Linked DNA regions of Homo sapiens: all the other regions are linked to region 1. Evidence: fine-mapped expression QTL. A gene starts in region 1. Each other region holds a variant in brackets. All regions are shown on one strand. Distances are between the middles of the regions.

Region 1 (6,427 bases):
TGATTCTTGACCAAAACATTCATTCATTAATTAGCAAAAAAGACTTATTTTTAATTTGAGATGTGAACTATTTCAAAACTTGCTCATAAAGTCAGGTTTGATTAATGTTATTTTATTTCATATTAGTTCCTATTTGCCCAGTTGAAATACACGTAAACACAACCTTGCTGAAAATCACTAGCATGTGGCGGACAGCGCAAAGAAAACAAAACATTTCCCAGGCAATGCTTAGAGCTCCTGATTATTTAAAAGCTCTGAGGGGAAAATAAATTTAAAGTAATGTTTGAAATGACAGTAAACAGGTGGATTTATAAAAATAAAAATATACAATGTTTAAGGTTCATTTATCTCCATACATAAAATAAATAAATAAAAGCCCTCTCTTTACTGAAGAAGACAGAACACACAAATGCAACTCCTTTCCTTTAAGAGACTTCATTAAAATGATAACAAAGGCATTTTTAAAAACAAGTAGGTCCAGATGAGGCGTAGTGGCTCATACCTGTAATTCCAGTACTTTGGGAGGCTGAGACAGGTGGATCACTTGAGGTCAGGAGTTTGAAACCAGCCTGGCCAATATGGCAAAATCATCTCTACTAAAAATACAAAAATTAGCTGGGCGTGGTGGCAGGTGCCTGTAATCCCAGCTACTCAGGGGGCTGAGGCAGGAGAATCGAGTGAACCTGGGAGGCAGAGGTTGCAGTGAGCCGAGAAGGCAACACTACACTCCAGCCTGGGTAACACAGCGAGTCCCTGTCTCAAAAACAAACAAACAAACAACAACAACAAAAAAACAGGTATGTCCAGACAATAATGTAATAATGTGGCAAACTGGAGAAGGCACATTAGCTGATGAGAGCTTTCTCCATGGTTGTGGGTAATGGAAAGCAGTGACGGCCTGGTAGTTGAGGAATTAGGGCAGAGGGGCATTAGACTAGAGTAGAAGGGGCTCCAGCCAAACAAGACTCTGCAGACCCTGGAGAGGGTCTGAAACACCAGGAACAATGGTGGGAACGTACTTGGGCAGAAAATTAAAAATAAGTGTCAATGGAATCTACCCTTTGCCCTGCCTGGCCCCGTGCCATAAGACAAAAACAAAATTGAAAACGAAAGCAAAACCTTTCCTATATCCTGATATTTAAAATTCTGGCAGTGTTTGGTGGCTCATACCTATAATCCCAGCACTTTGGGAGGCTGAGGCAGGAGGATCACTTGAGCCTAGGGGTTTGAGACCAGCCTGGCCAACACGGCGAGACCCCCATCTCTATAAAAAATAAAAAATATTAGCTGAATTTAGTGGCATGCACCTGTAGTTCCAACTACTTGAGAGGATTGCTCCTGGTGGGAGGATTGCGTTAGCCCGGGAGGTCGAGGCTGCAATGAACCATCATTATGCCACTGCACTCCAGCCTGGGCAGTAGAGCAAGACCCTGTCTAAAAAAAAAAATCCACAGAAGGTTGAAGGTAAATTTAATAAAATATCTCAAAAAACAGAATTAAAGAAATATTTAAAATATGAAAAAATATTAAAGGTCTGGAGAATCAAACTGTGAGGTCCCTATCTAAGTGACGGGAGATGCAGACATGACACAGAAAAGTAGAAGGAAGAAAGTGTCGAGGTGGTAACATAAAAATATTTCCCATGCTGCACATGCTGGCATGTGCTTGTGGTACCAGCTGCTTGGGAAGCTGAGGCAGGAGAATCACTTGAGCCCAGTAGTTCTGGGCTACAGTGAGCCATGATCATGCCACCGCACTCTGGCTTGGATGACAGAGTAAGAACCTATCTCTAAAAACATAAAAAAAAAAAATAAAATTAATTTAAAAAATAAAAATAAATCATAATTTTTTCCAAAGTTGAAAGACGCAAAAGGGCTCTCACTAGGTGCCTAGCACAGTAGATGAAAATACCTCATACAGTTCTGTGAGTTGGCTGGGCTCAGCCAGGCAGTTCTCACCTTGAGTGATGGTGCTCCCCAGCCACTGAACCTAAGAAGATAGGGTTTTCCTACCCTGTATTTTCAAGTAATGGGAATCAGAGCCAACTTCATTTTCCAGCCCTCTCCTCCTTACTTACCGCACTCCAGCTGTTACCAGTAGGGAATCTGATGTGTCTGCAGCAGCAACTCTATTCTTCCCTCCTCAGAGGAAAAAATTCGCCCAAGGGGCATAAGGTAGAGTAAGAAACCAAGATAACTTTTAGAGCAGGAGTGAAAGTTTTTAAAAAAGTTTTAGAGAGGAATGAAAGGAAGTAAAGTATACTTGGAAGAGGACCAAGCGGGTGACTTGAGAAATCCCAGTGCACTGTACAACCCTTAATGTGGGGTTTTATATGTTGGCACGGTTCTGGGATTTGCGTTTCTTCTCTCCTGATCCTTCCCTTGGAGCAGGCTGTCCACTTATGCAGTGGTCTGCCAGCACTTGGGAGTGGCCGCACTCACAGTGTGTTTACTGAAGTTGTGCGCGTGCTCATTTGAGGCATTTTTCCCTTGCCAGTCGAGAATTCCTAGAGGAAGGTCATATATTAGTTAAACTCTGACATTTTGCCCCTTAGGGCCCATGCTTGAGCCCACTTGCCCAACTCCTGAGATCTTATCAGGAAGCGGCTGACACTAGCTTCAGGTGTTTTCTATCTATTGGGAGCCGGCCTTTCCCTGGTGCTGGCTGCAACCAATGATGATTTTAGAGAAACAGTGTAACAACCACCTGACCATCACATGATGGTCGCCTGACATTCCTGGTTGGGGGTGGGGGTGGAATGCCCTCTGCTGCCCTTCTCATGTTCCCCTAGCTACCTACTCTAACACAGGTATGTATGCCTTTCTGAACTTTCTTGAATGTGTCAGACTTATTTTAACCCCAAAGACTTTTTTTTGCTATTGCCTTTGACTACAATATGACTTCCCTGTATTTTTGCATGACACATTACTCCTCACAATTCAAGTCACATCTCAAATGTCACCTCCTCAGGAAAGATGTTGTGCTGCTCATCACACCTAAAATAGCAACTTTCAGGTCGGGCACAGTGACTCATGCCTGTGATCCCAGCACTTTGGGAGGCCGAGGTGGGTGGATTACTTGAGGTTAGGAGTTCAAGACCAGCCTGGCGAACATGGTAAAACCCCCTCTCTACTAAAAAGACAAAAATTAGCCGGGCGTGGTGGCAGGTGCCTGCTATCCCAGCTATTTAGGAGGCTAAGGCAGGAGAACTGCCTGAACCCAGAGGTGGAGGTTGCAGTGAGCCAAGATCGCACCACTGCACTCCAGCCTGGGTGACAGAGTGAGACTCTATCTGGAGGGAAAGAAAAAATGCAACTTCTATTCTCCACCTATCCCTTTAGCCTATTTAAATTCTTCATAGCACTTACAATGACCAAATCCTTTTTTTTTCTTTTCTTTATTATCTGTCTCCTCCATGAGAGTAGGGACTTTGTCTTATTCATCATTATACAGATGGTTCTGGAGCCACCCAACAAGTTCTTCTTCCCCACTGCACAGACAAAAATCAATTCACTGAGACCATGGCATTGCAATAGAGAAAGAGTTTAACTGCCGCGAGGCTGAGCCCACGTGGGAGAACTGGAGTTATCCCTCAGATCAGTCTCCCTGTAGGCTCGGAACAAGGGTTTTTATGGACAATTTGGTTGTCAGGGGGTAGGGGGATAGTGCCGCTGATTGGTTGGGGATGAAATCATACCGGTGTGGAAAGCAGTCCTCATGCACTGAGTCTGCCTCTGGGTGGGGCCCCAGGACCTGTTGAGTCATGAGTCATGAGTCTGAGTGAGGTCAGTCTGAAAAACATCTTAAAAAACTCAATCTTGGCTGGGCGCGGTGGCTCACGCCTGTAATCCCAGCACTTTGGGAGGCCCAGGTGGGTGGATCACAAGATCAGGAGTTCGAGACCAGCCTGGCCAAGATGGTGAAACCCCGTCTCTACTAAAAATACAAAAACAAACAAACAAACAAACACCCCAATCTTAAGTTCTACAATAGTGATGTTACTTACAGGAGCAATTGGGAAAGTCACAGATCTTGTGAACTCTGGCCACATGACCCCTGGGCATTAAGGGACTATAGAAACTATGCCTACATTTTAGCAGAGTTCTGCCTTCTCCCATTATCCTATTCCTGTGGCCTTTCATTAGTCTTACAAAGGCGATTTTGGTCCCTGAGAAAGGAGGGGGTTAGTTTTAGGGAGGGACTATTATAATCTTTACTTTCAAATTAAACTATAAATTGAATTCCTCCCAAAGTTAGCTTGGCCTATGCCCAGGAATAACCAAGGACAGCTTGGAGGTCAGAAGCAAGATGAAGTCAACCATGTCACATTTCTGTTACTGTCAGTTCTGCAAAGGCAGTTTCCTTCCCTAACATAACAATAATTTGATGTAGATTTATCATAAGATGGCTCAAAAGAGAGAATGCATTCAGCAGAAACTGTACTTTGAGTATTCAAACAACTATTCTGTTTTTCAAATTCAGTACAGTATTCAATAAATTCTATGAGATTCAACACTTTGTCACAAACTAGGCTTTGTGTTAGGTGATTTTGCCCAACTGTAGGCTAATGCAAGTGTTCTCAGCACGTTTTAGGTAGGCTAGGCTATGCTACTTTAACAGCTACATTGTCTAGAGTATTTATGCTGGGGTTCCTTGTCTCACAATGAGAAAGAATTCAGGACACAGACACACGTGGGTGGGTTAAGAAGTAGAAAACTTAATAGAAGAAAGGAGAGAGAGAGAAGTCCAAAACGGGAGGCGGCGGACCGCAGCAGATTTTATAGGCAGGCTGGAAAAGGTGGTGTCTGATTTACGCAGACCTCATAGATTGGTACCATCAGGTATGACATTTACATAGCCCGCGAGGAAGACTGGCTGCCCCACCCTAATCTTATTATGTAAATGGACTCTCCAGTTGATCAGCACTATCTTGACTGCTCTTTAATACATTGTATGGTGGTCGACAAAGAGAAAGGAAGACAGAGCCACCATCTTGAACACATATAGTCCCTAGCTCCTGCCGGCATTCACCTGTGCAAGCTCCCAGCTTGCTTGTTTATATCTGCAGCTCAACTTTATAGGCTGCTCTTTGTTAAAAAACAATTTGGGGCTGCTTTTCATTAAGGATAAAAGCCTTACCAAGGACTTCCGTACCCTCACTATCTGCCCAAGTAATTTCTTCTTAACTCCCATATCCCTATGTTCAGTAGGTTAGGTGTGTTAAATGCATTTTCAACTTACAATACTTTTAACTTATGAAGAATTTACAGGGAGCACCTGTATCATTAGTGCCTAGAACATACTTGGAATGTTTGTTGAGTGAATGCTGGATCAGAATCTTGGCTGGGCATGATGGTTCATGCCTGGAATCCCAGCACTTTGGGAGGCCGCGGCGGGCAGATCACCTGAGGTCAGGAGTTTGAGACCAGCCTGGCCAACATGATGAAACCCCATCTCTACTAAAAATACAAAACTTAGCCAGGCATGGCGACCCGTACCTGTAATCCCAGCTACTCGGGAAGCTGAGGCAGGAGAATTGCTTGAACCTGGGAGGCGGAAGTTGCAGTGAGCCGAGATCACACTATTGCACTAGAGCCTGGGTGACAAAAGTGAGACTCCATCTCAAAAAAAAAAAAAAGAAAGAATCCATTTCAGGCAGACAATGGAACAATGCTTTTAAATTCCTGATGAAAAATTAGTTTCAGCTCAAAATTCTATATCCAGTCAAATCTTCAACTAAATGGAAAAGAAAAATAAAGACATTTTTTAGACTCATAAAACTAGCTTGCTTTACATCTCTTCTAAGAAAATACCTCAGCAAAACCAGGGCATAAACGAAACAAAAGTTTTAAACATGGAATCCAGAAAGCAATGAGTTTAACCAAGGATGGCAGTAAAGGGAAACCCCATGGTGACAACTGTGTAGCAAGACTGGAATAACAGCTCATCCAAATTGAAGTGGGCAGACACAGGGCCCTGGGATGGAGATCTCTAGGGGAAAAAAAAAGGAGAGCCAGGCATAGTGGCTCACGTCTGTAATCCTAGCACTTTCAGAGGCCAAGACAGGCAGATCGCCTGAGGTCAGGAGTTCAAGACCAGCCTGGTCAACATGGTGAAACCCTATCTCTACTAAAAATACAGAAATTAGCTGGGTGTGGCAGTGGGTGCCTGTAGTCCCAGCTACTCGGGAGGCTGAGGCAGAAGAATTGCTTGAACTCGGGAGGTGGAGGTTGCGGTAGCCAAGATCACGCCACTGCACTCCAGCCTGGGAGACAGAGCAAGACTCTGTCTCAAAAAAAAAAAAAAAAAAAAAAAAGAAAGAAAAAAGAAAAGAAAAGAAAAGAAAAAAAAGGAGGATTTCCATAGAAAAGTGAATTTGATGAAGAGGTTGGAAAAAGTTGACAATATATTTCTTCAAATAGTACCA
Region 2 (6,427 bases), 39 kb before region 1:
TCGTGAAAGTAATGGGGAGAAAAATGTAACCCATTTTCAACGTTGCCTATATTCAGGTAGAAATTCATCTCAGGTTAAAGAAGTTTACCCACCTCCGCTAGGCATTCTGTTAAAGCAGTTAAGCCAAATGTTCTTGTATTCTAGGGTTTCTCAACCTCAGCGCTGTTGACATTTTGTGCTGGATAATTCTTTATTGTGGGGGACTGTTCTGTGCATTGTAGAATACTCTGCAGCAACACTGACCTCTACCTACCAGATGCCAGTGGCACCCCATCTCTGAGTTGTGACAACAAAAACTGTCCTGAGACATTGCTAAATGTCCCCTGAAGCACAAAATCACACACCTCCCACCCTCCCCACCCCCTGCCCACCGCTCTATCTTGTTTGCAGCCAGTAGTGGGGCCTGCAGGGAGCTTGAGGTCCAAAAGCATCCCTAAGACCCCAAAGAAGGGGTTGAACCTGAGCTGCTTGGTTTGTTAATGAGCAGGACTAAAGGCCAAAATATGCCTAGTGGCCCATACTGTGCACATTGAGGGCGCTCACCCGATAGCTATGCCCTTCTCAACTCTAAAACACAAGACAGAACATTCCTTTAAGTGGAAATTACTGGGAGGCGTGCCCGAAGCCAACCCCAGCCAGCAGGCACATTCGTTTGGCCCATAGAGTGCTTAAAAATAATTGAAATTAGTTGCCAACATTTTTTTAAAATGTAAGATTTCTTTACACAATCTCTTCTAGAAAACAGAACAGGAGCAAGCACTTCCCAACTCATTTTGTGAGGCTACTATTACCCTGATACAAAAACCAGACATAAAAGAAAACTACAGAGCAATATTTCTTACGAATTTAGATACAAAAGTCTTCAACAAAGTGTTAGCAAATTGAATCCAACAATGTGTAAAAATAATTATACCAGGCTGGTTCAACATTTGAAAATCAATCAGTGTAGTTCAATATATCAACAGGCCAAAGAAGAAAGATCATACAATTACATCGATTGATGCAGAGACGGCATCTGACAAAACCGAACACTCATTCATGATAAAAACCCACAGCAAACTAGGAATAGAGAACTTCCTCAACTTGATTACAAGCATTATGTTTAACAACAAAATTACAGCTAATATCTTACTTAACAGTGAAAGACTGAATGCTTTCCTCCTCAGACTAGGAACCAGGGAAAAATGTCCCCTCTCACCGCTCTTGTTTAACACAGGACTGAAAGTCCCAGCCACTGTAATAAAGAAGAAAGACGGGAAGGGAAGGGGAGGGGAGGGGAGGGGAGGGGAGGGGAGGGGAGGGGAGGGAAGGGAAGGGAAGGGAAGGGAAGGGAAGGGAAGGCGAGGGGAGGGAAGGGAAGGGAAGGGGAGGGGAGAGGAGGGGAGGGGAGCGGAGGGAAGGGAAGGGAAGGGGAGGGGAGAGGAGGGGAGGGGAGGGGAGCGGAGGGAAGGGAAGGGAACAGAAGGGGAGGGGAGAGGAGGGGAGGGGAGGGGAGCGGAGGCAAGGGAAGGGAACAGAAGGGGAAGGGAGGAGAGGGGAGGGGGAAGGAAGGAAGGAAGGAAGGGTATACAGGATGGGAAAAGAATAAATAAATAAAACAGCCCCTATTTGCAAATAACGTGATTACATACATAGAAAAATCCCAAGAAATCTACAAAAACAAACAAACTTCTTGGAACTAATAAGTGAGTTCAGCAAGGTCACAGGATACAAAATCAGCATGCAAAAATCAATACATTAATAATGAACACATGAATAGCAAATTTAAAAACATGACACCATTTACGGTCACTCCAAAGAAAACATAATACTTAGGTATAAACATCATAAAATATATGCTGGATCTATATGTTGAAGATTACAAAAAATGATAATGAAAAATAAAATAGGCTTGGTGTGGTGGCTCACGCCTGTAATCCCAACACTTTGGGAGGCCGAGACAGGCTGATCACCTGAGGTCAGGAGTTTGAGACCAGCCTGGCCAACATAGTGAAACTCTGTCTCTACTAAAAGTACAAAAATTAGCCGGGCATGGTGGCATGCACCTGTAATCCCAGCTATCCAGGAGGCTGAGGCAGGAGAATCGCTTGAACCCAGGAACTGGAGGTTGCAGTGAGCTGAGATATCACACCACTGCACTCCAGTCTGGGTGACAGAGTGAGACTCCATCTCAAAAAAAAAAAAAAAAAAAAAGAAAGAAAGAAAGAAAAAAGAAAAAAAGAAAAGAAAACAATGGGCCAGGCGCAGTGGCTCACGCCTGTAATCCTAGCACTTTGGGAGGCCGAGGAGGGCAGATCACAAGGTCAGGAGATCGAGACCAACCTGGCTAACACGGTGAAACCCCGTCTCTACTAAAAATACAAAAAATTAGCTGGGCATGGTGACAGGCGCCTGTAGTCCCAGCTACTCGGGAGGCTGAGGCAGGAGAATGGCGTGAACCTGGTAGGCGGAGCTTGCAGTGAGCCGAGATCACTCCATTGCACTCCAGCCTGGGCAACAGAGTGAGACTCTGTCAAAAAAAAAAAAAAATCCCAGAAAGTATTGTGTAGAGATGGATAGATTTATTCTAATATTAATAGGGAACGTCATAGGTGCAAGAACAGCAAAAACAATTTTAGAAAAGAATAAAATGAGAAGACTCACTGTACCTGATTTCAAGCCTTATTATATAGCCACAGTAATCAAGATAATCAATGGACAAGAATAGCAAACCCAGAAACAGAGCCACACAAATATGCCTAGCTGATTGCTGACAAAGGTGCAGAAACAGTTTAATGGAGGAAGAATACTCTAACAAATGTTGTTAGAAAGATGGACATTCGTAGGTTAAAAAAAAATACACA[G/C]ACACAAAAATGAATCTCAACCTCAAGAGAATAAGAAGACAAGCCACAGGCAGGGAGAAATTATTCGCAAAAGGCACACTTTATCCAAAATATACAAGAAACTTGTAAAACTCAATAATAAGAAAACAAACAACCTAACTTTAAAATGGGCCAAAGACCTGAACGGACACCTCACCAAATGAGATATACAGATGGCAAATAAGTGTATGAAAAGATGTTCCACATCCTATGTCAACAGAGAAATGCAAATTAAAGCAACAAGATACCACTATATACCTATCAGAATGACCCAAAATCCAGAATACTGACACCACCAAATGCTGGGGAGGATATGGAACAGGAACTCCCATTCACAGCTGGTAGGGACGCAAAATGGTACAGCCACTTTGAAAGACAGTTTGGTGGTTTCTTACAAAACTGAACATACTCCTATATGATTCAGCAATCACGCTCGCTGGTATCTACCAAAAGGAGCTGAAAACAATGTCTGCACAAAAATCCGCACATAGATGTTTATAGTAGTTTTATTTATAATCACCAAAACTTGGAAGCAACCAAGATGTTATTCAGTAGATCAATAAACCGGTACATTCAGGCAATGGAAAATTATTCAGTGCTAAAAAGCAATGACAAAGCAATGAAAAAACATGCAGGAACCTTAAATGGACATTACTGAGTGAAAGAAGCCAATGTGAAAAGGCTACATACTGTAGGATCCAACCGTATGACATTCTGGAAAAGGCAAAAACCCTGTAGACAGTAAAAAGATTCATGGTTGCCAGGGATTGAGAGGTGTGGGAGGGATGAGTAGGTGGAGTCCAGAGGATTTTTAGGGCAGTGAAACTACCCTGCATGATACTATTCCTTTGTCCAAACCCAGAAAATGTGCAATACCTAAATCGTGTACCTCACACAAAAATTAATTCAAAATGAATCATGCACTCAAAAATAAAATGTAAAACTTCAAAACTTTTAGCCAAAAAAAAAAATAGCAGAAAATCTTCAGGATGTTGGTGTAGGCAGAGTTCTTAGGTTTGATACCAAAAGCAGCACCCCTAAGAGCAAAAACTGATCAACTGTACCTCATCACAATTATACTTTTTTTTTTTTTTTTTTTTTTTGAGACAGAGTCTCACTCTGTAGCCCAGGCTGGAGTGCAGCTCACTGCAAGCTCCGCCTCCCGGGTTCATGCTATTCTCCTGCCTCAGCCTCCCGAGTAGCTGGGAGTACAGATGCCCCCCACCATGCCCGGCTAATTTTTTTTTTTTTTTTGGATTTTTAGTAGAGACGGGGTTTCACCGTGTTAGCCAGGATGGTCTCCATCTCCTGACCTCATGATCCGCCTGCCTTGGCCTCCCAAAGTGCTGGGATTACAGGCGTGAGCCACTGCACCCAGCCTCAAAATTATACTCTTTTGCTCTGTAAAAGATGCTCTTAAGAGGACGAAAAGACATGTTACAGAATGGAAGAAAATATCTGCAAACTATGAGCTGACAAAGGATTAGTATCTAGACTATATAAAGAACTCTGAAAACTCTTTAAAAAATAATAATAATAATAGGCCGGGGTGCAGTGGCTTACGCCTGTAATCCCAGCACTTTGGGCAGCCGAGGCGGGTGGATCACGAGGTCAGGAGATTGAGAGCATCCTGGCTAACACAGTGAAACCCCATCTCTACTAAAAATACAAAAAATTAGCCAGGCATGGTGGCAGGCTCCTGTAGCTCCCAGCTACTTGGGAGACTGAGGCAGGAGAATGGCATGAACCTGGGAGGCGGAGGTTGCAGTGAGCCAAGATCGCACCACTGCACTCCAGCCTGGGCAACAGAGCAAGACTCCATCTCAAAAAAAAAAATAAAATAAATAAAAATAATAGGCCGGGTGCAGTGGCTCAAGCCTGTAATCTCAGCACTTTGAGAGGCTGAGGTGGGCGGATCACGAGGTCAGGAGTTCAAGACCAGCCTTCCCAACATAGTGAAACCTCGTCTCTACTAAAAATACAAAAAAATTAGCCAAGCATGGTGGCATGCGCGTGTAATCCCAACTACTCAGCAGGCTGAGGCAGGAGAATTGCTTGAACCTGGGAGGCAGAGGTTGCAGTGAGCCAAGATCATGTCATTGCACTCCAGCCCAGCTGACAGTGCAAGACTCTGTCTCAAAAAATATATATATGAATAATAATAATCTAGTTAGAAAATGGGCAAAAGGCATAAAGCAATTTTTCACCAAAGAGAATATGTAGATGGCAGATAAGCACATGAAATGTGTTCAACATCTTTATCCATCATCAAAATGTAAATGAAAACCACATGGAAATATTACAACACACCTATCAGAATAGCAACACCAAAAAGTGACACCACCAAATGACAGCCAGGGTCCAAAGACCAGATCCCTCATACGTTGCTGGTGGGAATGAAAAATGCTTTAGCAACTCTAGAAAAGTTTGTCAGCTCCATATCAAACTAAACATGCAACTATCATACAACCCAGCAACTGCACACTTGGGCGTTTATCTTAGGGAAATGAAAATGCGTGTTCTCAAAAAACACCTGCACACACATGTTCATGACAGCTTTATCTGTAAAAGACAAAAACTGGAAACAACCTAAATGAGCTTTAATGGATGAATGGTTCCACAAAATGTACAGTACATCTATTCCTGGAATACTATTCAGCAATAAAAAGGAATGAACTGTTGATACACACAGTACTTGGATAAATCTCAAGAGATTTATGCTGAGAGAGAAAAAAAGCCAATCCTTAAAGATCACTTACTGTGTGACTCCATTTATATAACGTTCTTGAAATGATAAAATTATAGAAATAGGGAACAATAGGGAATAGGAATAGTGGTTGCCAGGGGTTAGGGATGAGAGGAGAGAGAGGTGGGTGTGGCTACAGAAGGGCAACAAGAGTAATCCCCTGGTGACGGGCATGGTCTGTTATCTTGACTGTATCCGTGTCAGTATCCAGGTTGTGATATTGCATTATAGTTTGGCAAGATGTTACCCTTGAGGAAAACTAAGTAATGGTACATGGGACCTCTCTGTATTCTTTCTTTCTTTATGAGACAGGGTCTTGCTCTGTTGACCTGGCTGGAATGTAGTAGTGCAAACATGGCTCACTGCAGCCTTGACCTCCCAGGCTTAAGCAATCCTCCCACCTCAGCATCCTGAGTAGTGAGGGCTACAGGTGTGCACCACCACACCCAGCTAATTTTTTTCCTTGGTAGAGATGGGGTCTCCCTATGTTGCCCAGACTAATCTTCAACTCCAGGACTGAAGCTATCCTCCTGCCTCGGCCTCCCAAAGTGCTGGGATTAGAGGTATGAGCCGCCGTACTTGGGCTCTCTGCATTGTTTCTTTAAGCTGCATGTGAATCTACTAATATCTCAAAATAATAAGTTTAATTTAAAAACTTAACATTTCATAGAAAAATATGGGTTTCCAAGTTCTTTTGAACTCAGAACATTGGCACCACCTTCCCACAAGGCAATCACCCACTGGAGCTGATGGTGGCTTCCCTGTTTAAGACAGTAGGACAAGAACTCCCTGTTTGCCAGAGCACTTGCCTGTCCCTGTT
Region 3 (6,427 bases), 97 kb before region 1:
TATAAGGACTACTCTCCTTTCCAAAACATCCAGTGTGTCTGTATCTAAGGAAGGCATCATGGCCTTCCAAAGACCAATATCTTTCGCTGACCTTTCTGTTCCTTCCGCACCTCTGGTCTCATCTGAAGTGACTTTATCCATGACTCTTGGAGCATCCTTCTTAGGAACCGAAGGTAACATGGATGGGCCAGGCCTGGGGCTCTCTCTGGGATAATAAAAGAAAGCAATTAATAGGATAATGTAGATAGTAAGGCATTTCTCCTCATGTCCTATTGAAAAAGCAGATTTCTCAATTAAAGTTTTAAGTGGCTACTACAAAAAAAAAAATCCCTAGGAAAAAGGGCCCCCTGACTAAATAAATCCAGATTCAAAAGCAGATGTATCTGGACTCCAGAAAAATATATGACTGACTATAACCTATCACTTAATAGTACACAGCCAGCCAGTAAACAGTTGATACTTTTCCAGTGGTTTAAGTTAGATGAATTAAGGAACACAAGAAAAAGAACATAGTCAACAGCTCCCAGCCTCCAACCATGGTTCTCACATTTTTCAGAGCCTCAGGACATCCAGAGGGGGTAAGCAGGTTCATTTAGCAATTAGATATGGAAAACTCAGCTTTTAGAAAACCACTCACCTATGCGACTGACTTCTAAAAATCAGGCTGGGAATCACCTTTGAAACTGACCACACATTCCCGTGGGAATTTTTTCATTTAAGTACCTGTCAGTGTGGAGCTCTTCTGGAGCCAAATGTTGCAGCTTCGGGTCGTGAGTTTCGTCAGGCTCTGGAGGTGAGGAGACGCACACCTTCCCATCCCCAGCTGGAATGGGGCGCTCAGGCCCTGGCTGCTCCTTAGCCTGCTGGGGCCTGGCTGGGCTGTCCCCATGAAGGGCAGCTGTACCCTCCATCCCCGGAGCCTTGTCAGAGCAGGCTGGGTCCTGACAGCTTCCTGGCAGCACCAAGTCACCTGCCACAACGGAGAATGTCCTCGTAGTACCTGCTTCAGGCAGATCACCGGACGCACATGCCTGTGTCTCAGCTGTGCTCAGGGTGATGTCACCCTCTGCTTCCCCAGCAGCGCCTGCCACCTTGCCAGGCTCCAGGGGAGTGTCTGCCACTTCTCCAGTTGGTGGTGCAGGGGTGCTCTGGTTGCCCAGGGCATTTCGCATTTCCAAGATGCCAGCAGTGACTCCGGGTCTCCTTTCACCCCCAAGCGTGTCAAGGGTCCAGGGCTCACTGTTGGCCTCAGGCACAGTCAAAACCTCCCTCTGAGGAGAAGGGGCACACGTGGACCTTGGCACATGTCCTGGAACCCCTGTGTGAGCAAAGTCCCCGGGACCATCTTCTCCATGTGGACTGTCGCAGGCAGATGTTTCCTGGTGCTGCTTTCCAGAAGGAATTCTGTCTTGGGCCACGGCCTCTTCTCCATGGCTATGGGGAGCCACCTGGAAGGCAGCAGCTCTCTCCACAGGGAGCTCCTGAGTAGCTGCTGGTGAAGGAAGACCTGAAGCTAATTCCTGCCTGCTCCTCTCCAGCTGTGAGTAAGCCTGGCCTTCCAGGCCTGGCCAGGCTGCCCCAGGCCCCTCTGGCCTCTCGTCTTCCCTCAGTGTGGGTGGGACACCTGCCATCTCCTTCCCCACACCGGCACCTGGCAAGTTCCGCTCCCAGGTCAGCCCTGCTGGACCCAGAAGCTTGTCTGAAGCTGGATCTTGCAGAGCCAGATGGGAAATCTCAGCCTCTCCAGCCAACTGTTGCTTCTTCTCCACCTGGAGTCGAGCAGGAGGTGCAGGGAGAAGGGTGACATCCACTCCTGGAGGCCCATCTAGAAGCTTCTCTGGGCCCAATGGCCTGGTGAGGTCTTTACCCACTGCACTCCTCCCAGCTCCTGCCTTTTCTCCAGGTGTGGCCAGGGCTCCGAGCACAGGCTTCTCGAAGATCTTGGCGATGTGCTCCCTGAAGTCTGGGAAGCCAGTGAGGGTGGCGATTTGCTCAGAGCTTGTGTCCACACCACCTGATGTGCCCTGCTTTGGGTCCTGGGAAGGCTCTCCCATCCTCTCCATGCTGCCCTCTGTCTCTCCTGCTGCATCACCTGCCATGCCCTCCCCACTGGCCTTGGCACCTGCACCTGGAGCTGTTGCTGCTTTCTCTTCCCCTGTTGCCTGCTTGCCCTTGGCCAGAAGTGGCATCCGGTCCAGGCATGGCATGGAGTCCACTGGTCCCTCAGTGGTTCTGGCTTTGGGACTACCACTGCTGGCTTGCACTGCAGGGATTTCCCCACCTGCAGCTCCTGGTTGCAACAGGGGGGCGAGGGAGCCAGCAAACAGCTTCAAGGAGGCAGCATTTTCCAAGGCAAGTGGGGGCTCCCCTACAGGACAGGGGCTTTCGCCAGGAGCTCTGGGGTCTGCAGAGGAAACAGCTTTCACTCCACTGTCTTCTGCTCCTCTCTGGGCAGCACTGTCGACATGCAGGTAAGGGGTGTCAGGAGCAGCCACTTCTGGTGGCCCAGACAGCAGGAGCTCCTTTGGGTCTGGGACAGCCTGGTGTGTAGAAAAATCCATGGTGCTCCTGGGAATCCCACCCAGCTCTCTGGCTGGCAGCAAGGCATCCTGGCAGCTGGCCATGGGGTGCTCAGCTTGGCAGGACTCACGTAGGGCAGAGGTAGAAGCTTCCTCCCCGGAGGTAAGGCAGTGCTCAGTCTGAAGGAGGCCACAACTCAAAGTAGCTTCTCCAGGTTTCTCCGGAGCCTGCTGCTTTCCTGGGTCTCCTGCACCAGCGCTGCCACCAGTCTCAGCAGCCCCGGCTTCACCACCTTGCTCCCCAGCTGATGGGAAACTTGCAAGAAGCTTTGGGGACTCTGCATCCGAAGTGGCCCAGCACTCCATTTTCTGCTGCGGGGCCGGCACTGGTTGCTGCCTGCCTTCCTGGGTTTCATCACATGCCTCTGTCTCTGGGGCATCCTGGGTGGGTGTGACTCCGGGGCTGG[C/T]GGGCGCCAGGGCTGGCAGGCAGGGAACTGCATCCAGGAGAGCTACTGAGTCAGGCTGACAAGGTGGGGCCTCCCCTGTGTTTCCACTTGCCATCTCCCTCTTACTCAAGCCCCAGAGTGGGGAACAACCATCAGCTGCTTCAGAAGCTCCTGGATGCCTTTGACATGCTTCTTCATGCTGGCTGCCTTCTTCCAAGGCATCAGCCAATGCCTGTTGAGACTTGTTTGGCCCCTGCCCAGTGCAGCAAGTTTCCTTTCTGCTGAAGTTCCCTGCAAGAGAAAAGTCTTTTAAGACATCTGCTGCTGGAGGCGAGACCCTCGAGGACTGACCATCACCGCATGCTCCCTCTGGCCGCTTCTCCCCTAGTGCAGGCAACTTCTGTCTCGTTGGTGCTGACAATTCTGACTCTTCTGTCAGAGAACTCTCCCAAACCATGTCAGTGGGAGATGAAGTTGGAGTATCAGACAGGGTGCCTTTGGGGAGCTGACTTTGAAGTTCTGATCCCAAAGCCTGCTCCTGTCCTCCATGAGTGGGCAAGTTGTTATCTTCCTGAGGTTCCACAGGTACATGGATTTGGGAAGAATCTGCTCCCTGGTCCTTAAAACCTGGATGGCTTGGAGAAGTCTCTTTCCCATTTTCAGGTGGCTGGGCCTGCTCCTTGAGCACGTCAAAGATGGATGTCTCTGGTTGTGCCTGGGATGGCTGGAGATGCTTCTCAGAAGATAGTAGGGGCCACTCGGATGCAGCTCCTCTTATCCAGCCTTCCCCTGGGCAGGATGGGATTCCCTGCTGATCTTGGTCCAGGATGAGTGCCGTGAGCCCCAGGTCTGCTGCCAAGTTCTCCCCCTGGGGGGGATGTGGCACCCCAGCATGAAATTCCTGTCTCGACGCATCACACGCCGGCCCGCGGGGTTGATCTGGGGACGTCAGCAAGCCCTCCCCATCACAGCTGCCCATCTTCCTTATTTCCAATGTGCTCTCACCTTCCTGGGCTTTGGGTGCAACCTCTGCAACAGGAGTTGGTGGAAAATCTGATTTCTCTGATTCTAAAGTCAGGAAAGACTCCATTCTTCCCAATCCTTCCCTGCTCTGAAGGGTGTCAGGACATTTGGGCTGCAATCCTGACCCCTCCCAGATGGCTCCTTCGGGAACAGTGGGCTCACCAGCTCCATCTGGCACAGGGGGCAGGACGGGGTCCTCCTCACCCAGCTTGTGTGGTAGGCCAGATGCATCAGCCTCTGCTGTCTGAGAGTGGGGCCCGTCCGTGTGCCCAGCACCCCCCTTTCTGGGTGGCTGTGCTGAGTGTGAGCTGGGATGGTCTCTGCTCTCTGCATCACTGCTTGGCTTTGAAAGCTCATCTTTGCCTACTTCTGGATCACGCTTGCTGCTGAAAGCCTGAGAGTCCTCTCCTTGCAGGTTCCCTGGGTCTCCACCATCAGGTGGCTCTGGGGCTTCCTCCTTTCCTCCAGGGCTGTCACCAGGTGATCTGCTTCCTTCTTTAGCCACGGCTGGGCTTGTGGAATCTTCATGGACCTTGGCTCCATCCGTTGGCCCCGGTGGCCCTCTGGCACTTTCACTTGGTGCCTTGGGAAGAGGAGGGGGTGGTGCTCCTGGTTGGACCTCATGGCTTTGCTCCTTGGGAAGAGGAGGGGGTGGTACTCCTGGTTGGACCTCATGGCTTTGCTCCGTGTTCAAGTGCTCTCCCCTCTCCTGGGGTGATGGGGCAGGAACCTCTCCAGGGTCCCCTTCTGGATGCTCTCCCTTGCTTCCAAGATCTGACACCTGCCTCTCCAGTCCCACCAACCCTGCATCCACCACCTCTTTGGCTGCATCTGCAGAAACTGGCATCCCAGCCTTGGAAACTGATTCCCTGGATGATGATCCAGGTTCTTCTACAGCAATAGGAATCTGAGCAGCTGGGAATGAAGCGAGGCTTGAAGCTGGATGTGCTTCCTCAGTCGGAGTGAGCAGGGAAGGTTCAGGGCTCACAGGCAAACCCCCTTCGGGCTGGCCGCCTGCTGCCACACAGACAACTTGATTGGGCTTGGTTCCTCGCATCCCTGTCTGTGGGTGACCCTGAACATCAATGGTGTCCAGAGCCTCCTTCCCAGAGCCCCCAGCCTCTGGCACCAGGGCAGGACTTGGCAAGCCCCAGGGCAGCTCTGCGTGCGGCAGATATGCTCCCACTGGCTGCTGGCAGCTCTCCTGGGAAGCGGCATTCACTTCTGCTTCTGGGGCAGCCCCTGAATTGCTCCTAGGGAGATGGCAGGCCCTGAGGAATTCCAAGTCATCTGTTAAATACTGAGGCGGCGCCTCCCCTTGGCCTCTTTCTCTGTCTGAGGCTCTTGGGGCTGGATCTTGTGGGATCGGGGCCATGGGTTTTAGGGGGGACTTCTCCAAGACCGCTGAGCTTTCTGTGCCCTGCTGGGCTGCAGCAGGGGCCTCAGGGGTCACTTGCACAGAAGCCACCCCCTGCCTGGACTCTGCAGGGGGAAAGCCACCTGCAGCCTCTTTCTCTTGGGACTCAAAACCACCAGGCTGGTCCCCCTCTCCACACAGCGGTGCCTTCATTGGCTCTCTGAGGGGTACTGGCGACATTCCAGGTGACTGGTCGATGCCACTGGAGAAGGAGAAGGAGGACTTCTGTCCTTCTTCCTTCGGCTGTCTCTCTCTTCCAGCACTGGGGACGGCAGCAATCTCTTGGTATGGAGTAGAGCTGTCCCTCTCAGCGGGAAATGCCGCCGCGATGTCTCCTGGGGCATTTGGGGCAGGTTCCCTCCTGGGAGACTGAGTCTGAGGACCATCTTCAGGTGCCGCTGCTGGACTTGCCAAGCAACCTTCCGGGGGACACTCGGCAAAGGGCATGGAGGACGAGGGGTGCTCTCGCTCCTGGGACGGTGGTGGGCTGGGCAGCAAAGAACCTTCTGGCCCCCTGGCTCCCTGTGGGTCCTTCCTTGGCTCAGTCACCTCTGGGGACACAAGGCATGGATCCAGGCTGGCAGAACTCTCAGAAGCGGTGCAGAAGCCTCCAAGCCCAACGCTGCCAATGCTGAAAATATTTAATGTTTCATTGGTTATCATGGATGCCAAGGACAGAGCCACACTGCAGGCAGGTCACCCCCCAACCCACCCCCACAAAAGGGCATCAAGTGCCCTAACCACAGACACAGCATCCTCATGCAGCTCATTCCTCTCTGTGAGAGCCCCCTGCACCCCTCCCATAACCATTATGCATGCCCTCGTTTCCCCCAAAAACCACTGCAGGGTATCTCAAACACTCAGTGTGGGCCTTCCATGCTGATCAGCAGTGAATAGAGAAATGTGGCAACTCATTTATAGTAGTATAAAATGTGGGAAACCCAAAAAGGTTTTGTTTGTTTGTTTGTTTGAGACAGGGTCTTGCCCTGTCACCCAGGCTGAGGTGCAGTGGCACAATGATA
Region 4 (6,427 bases), 90 kb before region 1:
GGGAACTTGGGGGAACTTGGCTCTGAATTTTGAACTTACTACAGATAACTAACTATCCAGTTATTATAAAATGGCTTATTACATGATGTATTTGGACTATGTTGCTCAATTCTACACAGTTTTAATGCTGTGCCTTTTTTTTTTTTTTTTTGAGACGGAGTCTCACTCTGTCACCCAGGCTGGAGTGCAGTGGTGCGATCTCGGCTCACTGCAAGCTCTGCCTCCTGGGTTCACGCCATTCTCCTGCCTCAGCCTCCCGGGTAGCTGGGACTGCAGAAGCCCGCCACCACGCCCAGCTAATTTTTTTTTTTTTTTGTAGTTTTAGTAGAGATGGGGTCTCACCATGTTAGCCAGGATGGTCTCGATCTCCTAACCTCGTGATCTGCCCGCCTCAGCCTCCCAAAGTGCTGGGATTACAGGCGTGAGCCACCACGCCTAGTCAATGCTGTGCAATTTTTAATTTTAAAAATAATATGTGGCCAACACAAAGTGTGGAAAATGTAGGAAAAAAAAATCAGAAAAAATACTGCTACATGCTTGCCACTTTCAGAGTTCTAGTGAATTTCCTGATTTTTCCTACACAATTGTTTGGGGGTACAATTCTTGTTATTTTTACATAATTGTGATTCTATATACTTGTTATGATCATATATATTCTATTAACAAGAGAAATTCCTCAAGACAAAGTTAACATAAGTATGGTTTTTCTAAAGCTTTTACCATTTTCTTTAAAGTTATTATAGGGGAAATATCAAAGGAAAATTTATGGAATCTTTTTGTAACTGTTTGTTACATGCACACATATTCACACACACATAAGCCCACAGCGTTCTGGAGGGGGCTAGTGGAAAGATTCTCCTCTCAATGTCCGCTACCAAAATTCCAGTTTTCCACACCAGGCAGTGCACATGCATTCATACATGAGGGATGCATACAGTGAGATGGTGAAGTGCATTATTGTTAAATTTTTAAAATATGTGCTATGAACTGAACTGTGCCCCCCTCAAATCCATATGTTGAAGCCCTAATCCCCAATGTGACTGTATTTGGAGGCAGGCACTTTAAGGAGGCAGTTGGGATTAAGTGAAGTTATAGTAGTGAGGCCCTAATCTGATAGGACTGGTGTTCTTTATAAGAAGAGGAAGAGGCCGGGTGCATGGCTCACACCTGTAATCCCAACATTTTGGGAGGCTGAGGCAGGCAGATCACTTGAGCTCAGGAGTTCAAGACCAGCCTGGGCAACATGGCGAAACTCCATCTCTAAAAAGAAATATGAAAATCAACTGGGCATGGTGGTGCACACCTGTAGTCCCAGCTACTCAGGAGGCTGACGTGGGAGGATCACTTGAGTGCTGGAGGTTGAGGCTGCAGTGAGCTGAGAACATGTCACTGCACTCCAGCCTGGGCAACAGAGTGAGACTCTGTCTCAAAACAAAAAAACACAAAAAAAAAACAAAAAAAAAAAAAGGAAAGGAAGAGACACCAGGAATGCAGATACACAAAGGAAAAGCTATGTGAGAACATCAAAAGCAGGTGTCTTCTGCAAGCTGGGAAGAAAGGCCTCACCAGAAACCAACTCCACCAGCACCCTGACCAGGACTTCCAGCCTCCAGAACCAGGAGAAAATACATTTCTGTATTTTAAGTCACTCAAGTTGTGGTGTTTTCTTATGGCAGCCCGAGCAGACTAATACCATAGACAGGTGGGTATTTACTGTCCCATCCTTTCAACATTTTTGAGGTTTCAGTTTTTCCAAAACAAAAAGTTGGGAAAATAATAACAGATGAAATTCACTAGGCCTCAGTGCTTTGTGTGGATTATCTCATTTAGCCCTGCCAACAGCTGTGCAAGGTGGGTACCACCCATGCCATTTGCAGATGAGAACCCTGGAGAACAGAGGCTAAGCATGGATCTCAACATGGACATCTGATTCCACTGGACACAATCTTCTTATTCACTCTGCTATGCAGAATAAAAACTTCCAAGGAAGGCAAGAGCCTCTTCCCCCAGCCCCATTCCAGCCTCTCTGTCCTGCTCCTCACCTCTGAAGTACACGCGGCGTCATTTGACATCCCTGAAGGAGGCATGTACACAGAACCACCCCTGCACTCATCTTTATCTAATGCCTGTTCCTGCACATAGGACATGGGAATGGTGCCTGAGGACCCAAAAGAGAGCTGGCTACTGTCTCAACCAGATTTGCATTTTCTGACCCAAAAGCAGAGCTGAGTAGGCCAAAAAAGAGAAAACTCAGAGGGTAAATTATATAAAACCCTCCGATTCACAAATGGTCACGGAAGACAGATGGGCCCATGGAGAGCCCTGGCCCGAGTGGGCTGACATCTGGAAAACTACTTGGGGTTTGGATAAAGTGTCTTGGCCTGGCTTTCTGGAAAGCACCAGGTCCAGAACGAAACCCGATGCCTCCTCCCCCACCCTTCGCTGCTCAGCATCTGGACCTGGCAATTTTCCTTGTAACAAGCACTTTACATTTCATTATGTCCCACCCATTAACTGAAGTCAAACAGTTTAGTATGTGATAAGAGTAATGGTGTGTAATTCAGAAATGAAGTGCTCCTATTTATGTCGGCTTTATCAAGCTGGAAAGAAACGAA[G/C]CCACTTTCTTGTCCACGCCTCTGACAGGAACTGCCAACTTAGGAAAGGATGTGGCTTCCCTTCAGGCTGGCTGAAGTCGTTACCATCTGGAACAAGATGATAAATTATATTTTGGCATCTTGTAAACTTGTGCGGTCTTATCAGAAAGCAACCAGGAACAAATTTTCCATGGAGTATGGGACACACAACAACTCCTCCCAAATAAGAACCCAGACATTGGTTTATTTAGCATAAGCTGGGTACCAGCAATCTCTTTGATTATCCATCAGAAGTAATTTTTAAAGCCAGATTAAAGCTGCTCACCAGGAGCAGATCTGCCTAAGGGCAGGAAAAATTCTAAGAACTGATCTGTTGAGGGCTGTGCATTAGTTGAAGCTTACATAATATCCTTTTATGCTTCGAGATTGAGTTGAAATGTGTGGGATAGAGCCTCTGCTCAGAATCCGCAGGCCAGCACCCCGAATGGAAGCCTTTCACCCTCTGGGGGCACTGCCTCTGTGTGGAGGTCAGGGAGGGCCCAGGGACTAGAGCCTCCATCACAGACCAGATGTACACAGCACAGTGAAGGGAGAAGCATGGGCAGGGGCTGGCAGGGGGTCATCTGCCACAACCAAGGTCTGAGCAGATGATGGGGATGCAGATGGGTTCTTAAATGCATAGTTCTGGAAACACACACACATGCAATGCTTAAAGGGAGGAAGGAGGCCAGCTACAGAAAACACAAACATGGCCCCTGCACGACCAGGTTTTCAGGAGTCGGCAAAACCATAAAGCAAAGCCGTAAAGATAGAGAGTTGCCATGTACTAAACACTGACTCAGGCCAGACCCTCTGGGCACTTTTTTTTTTTTTTTTTTTTTTTTTTTTTGGAGATGGAGTCTCGCTCTGTCGCCCAGGCTGGAGTGCAGTGGCACAATCTCAGCTTACTGCAACCTCCACCTCCTGAGTTCAAGCAATTCTCCTGCCTCAGTCTCCCGAGTGGCCTGGACTACAGGCGTGCACCACCATGCCCGGCTAATTTTTGTATTTTTAGTAGAGATGGGATTTCACCATATTGGCCAGGCTGGTCTCTAACTCCTGACTTCAGGTGATCTGCCCGCCTCGGCCTCCCAAAGTGTTGGGATTACAGGAGTGAGCCACTGAGCCTGGCCTGGGCACTTTTCAGTTACGATTGCGCTTAATCCACACAACAGCCTGGTAGAAGGGTGGCCCCATTGTACACACAAGGACATTTTCCCGAAGAAGTTCAAGACAGGACCCAGGGTCAAAGAGCCGGTAACGCAAAGCAAGATTGAGCCCTGTGGCGCTGCCTCCCGTTGCCTTGTACTGGCTGCCTGCACCAGCCTCTCACCGAACAAGTGCAGCATTCCCTTCTCCCATCCTCTCTGGCCCCCTTCATTCTGTTCTGCCAGCTGTGGCCAGACCAACAGCTTAGAAATCAAAGTCTGCTCCTGTCACCCCACTGTGGCTTCGCTTTGCTCTCAGTTGTGGCCCCAACCTCCCTCTCCTGCCTCATTCCGCATGAAGCTCCCCAGCCATGCATCTGCCTGGAGCCTGCAGCCCTCTGCTCCCCACCAGGTTGCAGCTCCACTCTTCGCTTCTCAGGGTAGCCTCCCTGGCCTGGGCTCCCAGATCAGTTTCTTTCACAGGCCCACCTAGCGCTAGTCATGGTTCCCATCACTATGGTTGGTGACTGTTTTCCCTATTGGAGTGTAATGGAGGCCAGGTCCTAGTCTCCTTTCAATATCATATCCCTGGTGCCTGGCATATAACAAACAATAAAATGTTGTTGATATATGAATGTACGAGTGAGTGCCAGGATGGATGGCTAGAAGGATGGACAGAAACAACTGAACCCAAATCAAGGATACTAAATATACAGAGATGCACCCAAATCGTGGTTGTTTCACTAGAAGATTATGAACATTCTTTTTTTTTTTTTTTTTTTTGAGACAGAGTCTCACTCTGTCACCCAGGCTGGAGTGCAGTGGCGCAATCTCTGCTCACTGCAACCTCCGCCTCCTGGGTTCAGGCAATTCTCGTGTCTCAGCCTCCCGAGTGGCTGGGATTACAGGCCTTTGCCACCATGCCCAGCTAATTTTCATATTTTTAGTAGAGATAGGGTTTTGTTATGTTGGCCAGGCTGGTCTCGAACTCCTGAGCTCAAGTGATCCGTCCGCCTTAGCCTCCTAAAGTGCTCGGATTATAGACATGAGCCACCGCACCCGGCCCAGATCATGAACATTCTTTTCTTCCATCAAGCATAGCATTCCAGTAATTCATTAGTCCAAACCTCTCATTTTACAAATGAGGAAACTGAGGCCCAGAAAAGGCAAAGTACTTTTTTTTTTTTTAATACTTCTGTGAAACAAAGTTAAGGCAGCACTTCTCAATCACACACCTCTACACTCACTGGTAGGTCTAATGTGTCAGGGCATGCACTGCAAGTAATTTGTGACTAATTATAAAGTACTAAAGCCTGTGAATGATTTGTTATTTTCATAAATTACTATAATTCAAAAGATTAGAAGATTTCCTAACATAACATCATCACTGCTACTCGTTGCATTCCGGTGTGCCTTCTGGAAAAGGAAAGCCGGGGTAGAATGAAAGCCAGTGGGTTAGTGCAATGGATTGAATGAATGTTTTCCCCTTCAAACTCCCGCTGAAACTTAATCCCCAAACTTAATCATGTTGAAAGGTGGGGGCCTTTAAGAGGTGAAGGTGATTGGGTTGTGAAGGCCCTGCCCTCAGGAATAGGTTAATCCATTCATGGATTACTGGGTTATCATGGTGGCTTTATGCAAAGAGGAAGGGAGACTTGAGCTAGTATGCTCATTTCTTTTACCAGTGATGTCCTGCGCCACCTCATAACTCTACAGAAGCCCCACCAGCAAGAATGCCCTCACCAGGAGCAGCCCCTTGCCCTTGGACTTCTCAGCCTCCATAACCGTAAGAAATCAATGCTAGGTGCAGTGGCTCACGCCTGTAATCCCACCACTTTGGGAGGCCGAGGTGGGCGGACCACCTGAGATCAGGAGTTCAAGACCAGCCTGGCCAACATGGTGAAACCCTGTCTCTACTAAAAATAAAAAAATACAAAAATTGTGGTGGCAGGCACCTGTAATCCCAGCTACTTGGGAGGCTGAAGCAGGAGGATTGCTTGAATCCAGGAGGCGGAGGCTGCCATGAGCTGACATCATGCCACTGCACTCCAGCCTTGGGCAACAGAGCAAGACCCTGTCTCAACAATAAAAAAAAGAAATCAATTATTTTTCTTTATAAATGCTCCAGTTTCATGTATTCTGCGATAAGCAACAGAACACAGACTAAGTAAGACTGACTAGCCTCTGAGAACTGCCAACTCAAATAAATGTTAACAGAGGCAGCAGCTGTGGTGGAGATGAGAGGATTCGAGGACTGAAAGGTGATCCCCAGCTCCCCACATTCCTGCCTGGGCCCTCAAATTAGAGACTTTCCCAACACTTCTGAGTTCTCAGTGAAGTATGATGCTTCTGCCATATTCTTTGCCCCCTTATGGTCACGTCCATTGGAGGAGATTTCTCCGAGTGGTGATATGGGGAGAGCCAGCCCCCGTGAGTCCAGTTTCCCCATGGGTGGGGTTAAGGTGTTCGAGGTCCTTGAGATGAACTACCACAATGCAGCCCCTTCTCCTCTCGCAGCTATTTGCCACGTGACGAGCTCCCTGGGCCAGCCTTCCCCATCCTTCATGGCACCTGCACTGATGCAGCTTGGGACTTGGTGGGGAAGGATGGTTCGGGGGTAGGTAGGAGGATTCCGGTTTTGGCATC
Region 5 (6,427 bases), 180 kb before region 1:
CACTTGAGCCCAGGAGCTCAAGACCAGCTTGGGCAATATAGGGAGGCCCTGTCTTTACAAAAAATTTAAAAATTAGCCAGGCATGGTGGCGTGCACCCGTATTCCCAGCTACTCGGGAGGCTGAGGCAGGAGGATCACTTGAGCCTGGGAGATGAAGGCTGCAGTGAGCCATGATTGTGCCACTGTGCTCCAGTCTGGGTGACAGAGCGAGACCCTGTCTCAAAAAAAAGGAAAATTACAGTGCTCAGATGAGAGGGAAGGCTATAAATTGGGGCATTATCGGCACATATTATTTAAGTCCATGAGCATAAATGAGATGTCTTAGAGAGAGAGAACAGAAAACAAAGATTGCCCAGGCCAAAGGGGACATAAGTCTGAGCCCTGTACCAATCATCCGTATAACCAGGAATCAGCAAACTACAACCTGCAGTCTGTTTTTACAACTAAAACTCTACTGGAACATGGATTTACATGTTGTCTCTGGCTGCTTTTGAACTGTAACAGCAGAGATGCTGCACAAAGACGGAATGGCCCAGAAAGCCTAAAATATGTACTATGAGGTCTTTTACAGAAAGTTTACTGCTCCCTTAATTTAAACCATCCAGAGGACTCAGTTTCCTTATCTATAGAAGTCACCCACCTTGCAGGATTAAGGGATATAATTATTTCTATAATGAAAAAAACCTAGCACACAGACATGGTACACAAGAGTTTCTGCTGAATCTGAGCCTGCTCAGTGGGCTTTTCACTCCTGGCTTCAACACTGCAGCATCCAGCTGTTTCCATATTTGGCAATGGCGTTTAAACAGCACACACCTGCACTCCAGAAACAACTGCTAAAGTGAATTTGTAAATATAAACAGAAATGTCATCTGAGCTACTGCTTCCAACACAGGATAGATGTGTGTGAGCAGTTCTGACTCAGTCAGTTCTTTGTGGCCAACCAGTCTCCCCTAAACCCCTGTCCAACCTGAAACAAAGCATCAGTCCATGAACAATTGGTTTTCACAGAACAATTGCTTACAATGCCTAAGTCCTCACCATTAATCTTAAAGGGAAGAAACAGAATTGTTCAGCATCACTTGCTTACCCCAGAACACTGCCCTAGCTTGGGTAATCCATCTGCAAGAACAGCCAATCATGTTTCAGAATAAAGTTGTTTCCTAGGCAACCAAAAATCTAGCCACAGAAACAGGCTGTAGACAGTGGAAAGAAACACAGGGATGGGAATGGGAGGGTCGATGGAAGAGCAACCCAGAATCCACTGACCTTGATCTGATGTTCACCTGCAGTGCCACACTCAATCAGTATCCAAGTCCTAGCTGTTCACCCCATCCTCGACAGGGTACCCTGTCCCAGGGCCCTAGCATGGCATGGCCCCTTGGATGATTGGTAGCTACCTGGAGGACCTCGGAATATATTTGCCTTCAGCCCACCTAAGAGAAAGCCTCCAGGCAAGTCCCCCAGAGAAGATAGTGAAGGCCCAGGACCCTTATGAACACAGGCACAGGGCCACGCTGGTGATATCTAGGAATAATGGCAGGGAAAAATGCACCCAAGCTTCCTTTGGGAATCAATCTCCCCCTCCCACTCTACAGATAATGTTGCAGCTTATTCTATTTTAGGGGAGAAAAAACTCTATTGTGTCCAACAGTAATATCCAAAGTAAAATCTCCGTCCAGGAACTCAGAAACTGGCTGCAACTCACATTAGGAATGCTGTCGTTTAAGCTAAAGCATTTAGCCAAGGGCTGCCCCAAGAAACAAAGCCTTGAAAAAGATCTATGGCTGGGTGCGCTGGCTCATGCCTGTGATCCCAACACTTCGGGAGGCTGAAGCAGATGGCTCACTTGAGCCCAGGAGTTAGAGACCAGCCTGGGCCACATAGCAAGGCCCCTGTCTCTACAAAAAATTATTTAAAAAAAAAAAAAAAAAAAAAAGCTGGGCATGGTGATGTGTACCTATAGTCCCAGCTACTTGAGAGGATGAGGTAGGAAAATCCCTTGAGTCCGGAAGGTGGAGGCTGCAGTGAGCTGTGATCACACTGTTACATATGAGCCTGCGCAACAGAGTGAAACACTGTCTCAAAAAAAAAGAAAGAAAAAGAAAAAGATCTAATGAGAGCTAAAGAAAGAGTCCTGCTTAGAGCCCCAGCGACCGTTTCTGGCCTTCTGAGTGACTGAGAGGCTGGCAATTTCAGGCATAGGGCATTTCCACTTTTGCAGTTTTCTGGCACTTACGTCTTCTCAAGAGTCTTTGCAGATGTGGCATCTCACCTCTGAAAAACCCTGCGAGGCAGGAGGGGCAGGATCAGAGTCATCGGATTTTCTCTACAGCTCCCAAAGAAAAGGTCAGGAACCACATAAGGGAAGGGACCAGAACCCCACTTCTAACCACAGATGTGTGGAGAGCTCCAATCTCTCTACCTACTGCGGTGGTACCCGAGATCCTTCTTTTGCCTGGCCTCTCTCCAGCTACATCTGATCCCACCCACTTCTGAAATCTCAGCCAACTCATCAACTTCCCCGAACTAGCTCCCAATCCAGTTTTCTTGTCTGTCTTGGCCAATGCCACTTCTTTCTCTTAGTTACCAGGGTATGAAACTTCCATTTTGTACTTGCCACTGTCTCTTCTCTTCCCTCCCCCATCTCATCAATCACAGAGCCTGTTGCTTCCTCCTCCATCGCTTCTCTCCCATCCACCCTGGCCCCTCTACTTCGATCCACAGGTCTACAGAGTATGGGTTTCCATATTTGTGATTTGTTTTTTAGAGCCAAGGGCACGTGCTCACTTTGAGAGTAGGGCAACAGTCGGGGCAGGCCGACTTTGCCAACAGAACCACCGCTTTTGCTCTCTGATAATGGCCCCCTGGGTGGTTTTCAGTGGCCAGGGTGTGGGGATTTGGTGGAAGCTGAGGGAACCCCTGAAACGGGGGTCTCCAACTACATAAAGGACAAAGTACTTAATGCTGCCCCACTTAGCAGAAGCCACACCACATGGGGCTGCCACAGAATCAAGGGATGAACAGCAGGTCTGATCAATAGCTGCAGCCCACATTTACTCAAGTACTTCCTGTCCATTCCTGTGTCTCCTACCATCCATACTGAGAAATAAGTGTTTTCTGTGGGAGAATTCTCCCTCCCCTTGCTACTCATATTCTATTTAGAAACAAATGGTCACTATTGCTACAAGAACTTCTTTGCCAGATAGGAAAGGAGCAGTCAGAGAAGTGGCCAGCTGTTTCTCATGGACAGGATGGAGGGAAGACTGAACCAGCTCATGGCTTCTCAAATTTTGAGATGCCTACAAATCACCTGGGCATCTTTACAAGTCCCTGGATGAAATGGAGATTCTGATTCAGCTGGTCTGGGGTGAGGTCTGAGGCTCTGCGTTTCTAGCAAGCCCCTTTGGGAAGCTGATGCTGTCATGTGTGGCCGACCCTGGGAGTAGCAAGAGACTGGTCACCATTTGCACCTTCATCCTCAGGCTTCAATCCCCAGTCCCATGGGACTTCTGCTACTCCAATCTTGATGCCTGAGTTCTCAAAAGGGGAGATACAAAAGTCGCTCCCTCCCTAGCCCAATGCACTCCTGCATAGAATGAAGCTGTCAGCTGGAGCTACAAAAGCTGCCCAAAGGCACCCCAAACCTGCAATTGGAAGGAAAGAAATCTTAAAACTAAAAAATTTAAATTAAAAAAAAATCCTTCAGTCACTTCCAAATCCTCTATCTTTTGATTTCACTCTTACACCATGGCCCTCCTTAAGCCAGTCTT[T/G]CACAGGGAACCAGCAGAGAAAAAGGGAAACATTCACTCTAGATTCCGGTTGTCAGGAGCTGTCCCCCGCGGCAGGTGCGCACCCTGTGTTTGTCACCATCCCTGCAGCCCTGACGGCATCATCTTACAATGCAACCTCTTTCCTGCCATGGGCCCCACACTCTGTTGCTGTCTTGTGTATTATTCACGTGCATGCATTTTTAGCTGCATGGAAATACTACCAAGAAAGACCTGTGCCTGGGCAGAAAAGAGGCACTCTCCGAATATATATTTTTAAAACCTCTAGACTGGGAAAGAGCACATCTGCACTAGAAAAATAAGCCCCAGTTATTCAGAGAGCAGAGACGGGTTTTGAAGAGGACAGATGCTAGCAATGGCACTGGCCCCAAATATTTCCTCTCTCTCCATTTTTTTAGAACAAAAATGTTACGGGATGGAGGGTGGGATTTTGTGAATGAGTGAATATACTATCGTAAAGATCTATATTTAGAGACATTTCAGAGGCAGCAGTTCTAGGGAGAGAAGCCTCAGGCGGGGGCATATGGACCAACTCAACTGTGAAAATATTTGATAAACAGCTTCCATCACAATGTGGCCATTCAGCCTGAAATTTTATTTAAACACCACTATCCCAGTGGGCAGAACCTTAAGGGACCTTATCCAAAAAGGCACAGCTACCTAACAGAAGCTATCTAAACTCGGCCCTCAGCTGACGGAACACTGATCATTTATTAACTCAGCTGAAAAAGAGGGCGGGGACGTTAGGGACCGGCGAGCTGAATTTCCAATGACTGAGGAGCACATTTTCCCAAACGTACAGTCACATTGTCCTTTCTGTTTCCTAAGCTCTTCACTAGATAGGTCTGAGCCGTGAGAGTTGGCCAGTGCCTGTCACTGATTAACTCAATTCCACTATAGGGACTTGCAAAAAATAGGTTAAAGTGGTTCTTTTCTGCCTAGACTCGAGTTGTATTTCCATGCACCTAGCAACACTACACGTGCATGAGAAACAAGGCAGGCACAGCACAAGGATCATAACATTTAAAAAGAAAATCCTCAAACGCGATGTGCCTCCATTGTAAGACGATGCTTTCTCAAGCTACAGGGGTGAAGACAAATGATGGGTGCACACCTGCTCGGAAGAATGACTCCCTGCTAAAGAGCTGGAGCCCAGAAAACCACGAGGCTCAGCCTAGCATTACATCACTACGCCGAGCCAGCTCCTCACTGAAGCCCAGGGGTCGAGGGACCAGTGAGGAAGTACCCCCCGGGGCCCCATCCCTCCTACAACACACAGATCAATCCCCACCATCTTTTAATCTACACATCCATGACTCTTAAGAACCCACTTTACTACCCCTACCCCCAAGTCCCCAGAAAATACTCTTCTCTGAAACATAGTCTTCTCTCTGGAAAAGTGGGGGCAGGTGAGGCTGGGAGGTCCACTTTGGATACAAGCCTGAGTTGCTGAAATGCGACCCGGCCGGCAGACCCATTCAATACGCCCCATCGTCCAAACATGCCTGGGTAGGTAATGGAGACGACCATAACAGAAACGTGAATTCTAATAAACACTCGGCCAGGATAAAGGCCACTTCTGAGCACGTTAGCTCTGTGGTTGAGAGAAAAGATCGGATTCCTGGATCGATGCACAGTCAAGCACTGCCTCCACCAATGACAGGACGGTTCGGCCCTTTACTAATAATAGCAAGCGGCCTTGTCCTCGAGTGTTCACCAGAGTATGTGGATGATGCTTAGGCTAACTAGACGGAACGTCCACCAGAGCGCACCACGCCATCTGCCCAGCCACAAGCGCAGCTGCCCGGAAACTGGGCTGTCGCCCCGGGCACGGAGCTGCCACGCTCATGGGTTCTTCCTAGGAGGAGGCAGTCGCTGATGCCTGGCTGTTCCCTTGCAGGAAATACCACTGTGCCGGGGGTGCAGAGGAAAGATGCTGACGGCAGGAGAAGCCCCCCAGCCATGCACCCACTGCTGAGCGACCAAAACTGAATTCCAGGGAATCGTTTCTGCCCACAGCAGTAACTTGGGGCTACCAGATGCTCCTCCCAGAGCAGCCCCAGGTAAAGCTTTCCAAGGCTGCGAAGAACCCCAGGCCAGCCTGGGCTCCAGGTTGCACAGGCATTAGGAAAGGCGACACTAACAAAGCCCGGGCATCCTCTCCTCCTCCCCGGGAGACTCGGGGCGGCCCGGGCGGAGCACTTACATTGCCTCGGAAGCCTCCAGGTTCAGGTCGCTGGCTGGGGCTGGCTGCAGGGACTGCGACCCTCCCATCCTCGCTGTGCCCTGGCGTGCAAGCTAGCCGCGAGCGGGGCCAGCGTCCTGGCGCGATTCCTGCAGCCGGGAGCCGGGGCGAGCCGGCCGGCGGCCGGGGTTGCTGCACTGCAGAGGGGAGCAGCTGCGGGCATCCGTGGCGGCGGGAGCGGCGGCAGGGAGCTGCGACTCGCGGCCCGAGCCGGGGGCCGGGGGGCGAGCGCCGCGTATGTGTGCGCGCGAGTGTGGCCGGCGCGCGCCCGAGTGTGGCCGGCGTGCGCGGCTCTGCCCGGGGCGTGCGGGTATGAGCGTGAGCGCCGGTGTGGTCCGAAAGGCTCTTCTCTTAAACCCCCCGGCAGCCGGCTCCTGTGTGTGACACGATG

Direction of the effects. Alleles are on the strand shown, and positions count from the first base shown. SD is a standard deviation of normalised expression in the study named. Not every link is listed here.
As copies of C replace G in region 2, the expression in anterior cingulate cortex of the gene that starts at base 2,403 in region 1 goes up (moderate effect, 0.47 SD a copy in GTEx).
With allele T in place of C in region 3, the expression in sun-exposed skin of the gene that starts at base 2,403 in region 1 is lower (small effect, 0.30 SD a copy in GTEx).
For the expression in skeletal muscle of the gene that starts at base 2,403 in region 1, G is the high allele of the variant in region 4 and C is the other (moderate effect, 0.74 SD a copy in GTEx).

The links.
Region 2: its variant is fine-mapped to the expression of TACC2 in anterior cingulate cortex (GTEx, PIP above 0.99). The same link has a PIP of 0.9 or more in prefrontal cortex.
Region 3: its variant is fine-mapped to the expression of TACC2 in sun-exposed skin (GTEx, PIP above 0.99). The same link has a PIP of 0.9 or more in unexposed skin.
Region 4: its variant is fine-mapped to the expression of TACC2 in skeletal muscle (GTEx, PIP above 0.99).
Region 5: its variant is fine-mapped to the expression of TACC2 in tibial nerve (GTEx, PIP 0.99).

The regions. Positions count from the first base shown.
Region 1 is chr10:121,985,139-121,991,565 of GRCh38, reverse strand. It overlaps TACC2 (transforming acidic coiled-coil containing protein 2), which reads right to left and starts at 2,403. Exons shown (of 23, transcript NM_206862.4): 1 at 2,078-2,403.
Region 2 is chr10:122,023,851-122,030,277 of GRCh38, reverse strand. All of the region lies in intron 2 of TACC2 (transforming acidic coiled-coil containing protein 2), which reads right to left. Among named protein-coding and RNA genes, the nearest start is that of TACC2, 38 kb to the right of the region's middle. The variant G/C (reference allele first, on the strand shown) is at 2,844.
Region 3 is chr10:122,082,256-122,088,682 of GRCh38, reverse strand. It overlaps TACC2 (transforming acidic coiled-coil containing protein 2), which reads right to left. Exons shown (of 23, transcript NM_206862.4): 4 at 724-6,036; 5 at 92-205. Among named protein-coding and RNA genes, the nearest start is that of TACC2, 96 kb to the right of the region's middle. RefSeq lists an enhancer at 2,716-3,217. The variant C/T (reference allele first, on the strand shown) is at 2,987.
Region 4 is chr10:122,075,252-122,081,678 of GRCh38, reverse strand. The region is part of intron 3 of TACC2 (transforming acidic coiled-coil containing protein 2); the gene reads right to left. Among named protein-coding and RNA genes, the nearest start is that of TACC2, 89 kb to the right of the region's middle. RefSeq lists an enhancer at 4,074-4,575. The variant G/C (reference allele first, on the strand shown) is at 2,616.
Region 5 is chr10:122,163,563-122,169,989 of GRCh38, reverse strand. All of the region lies in intron 7 of TACC2 (transforming acidic coiled-coil containing protein 2), which reads right to left. Among named protein-coding and RNA genes, the nearest start is that of BTBD16, 100 kb to the left of the region's middle. The variant T/G (reference allele first, on the strand shown) is at 3,774.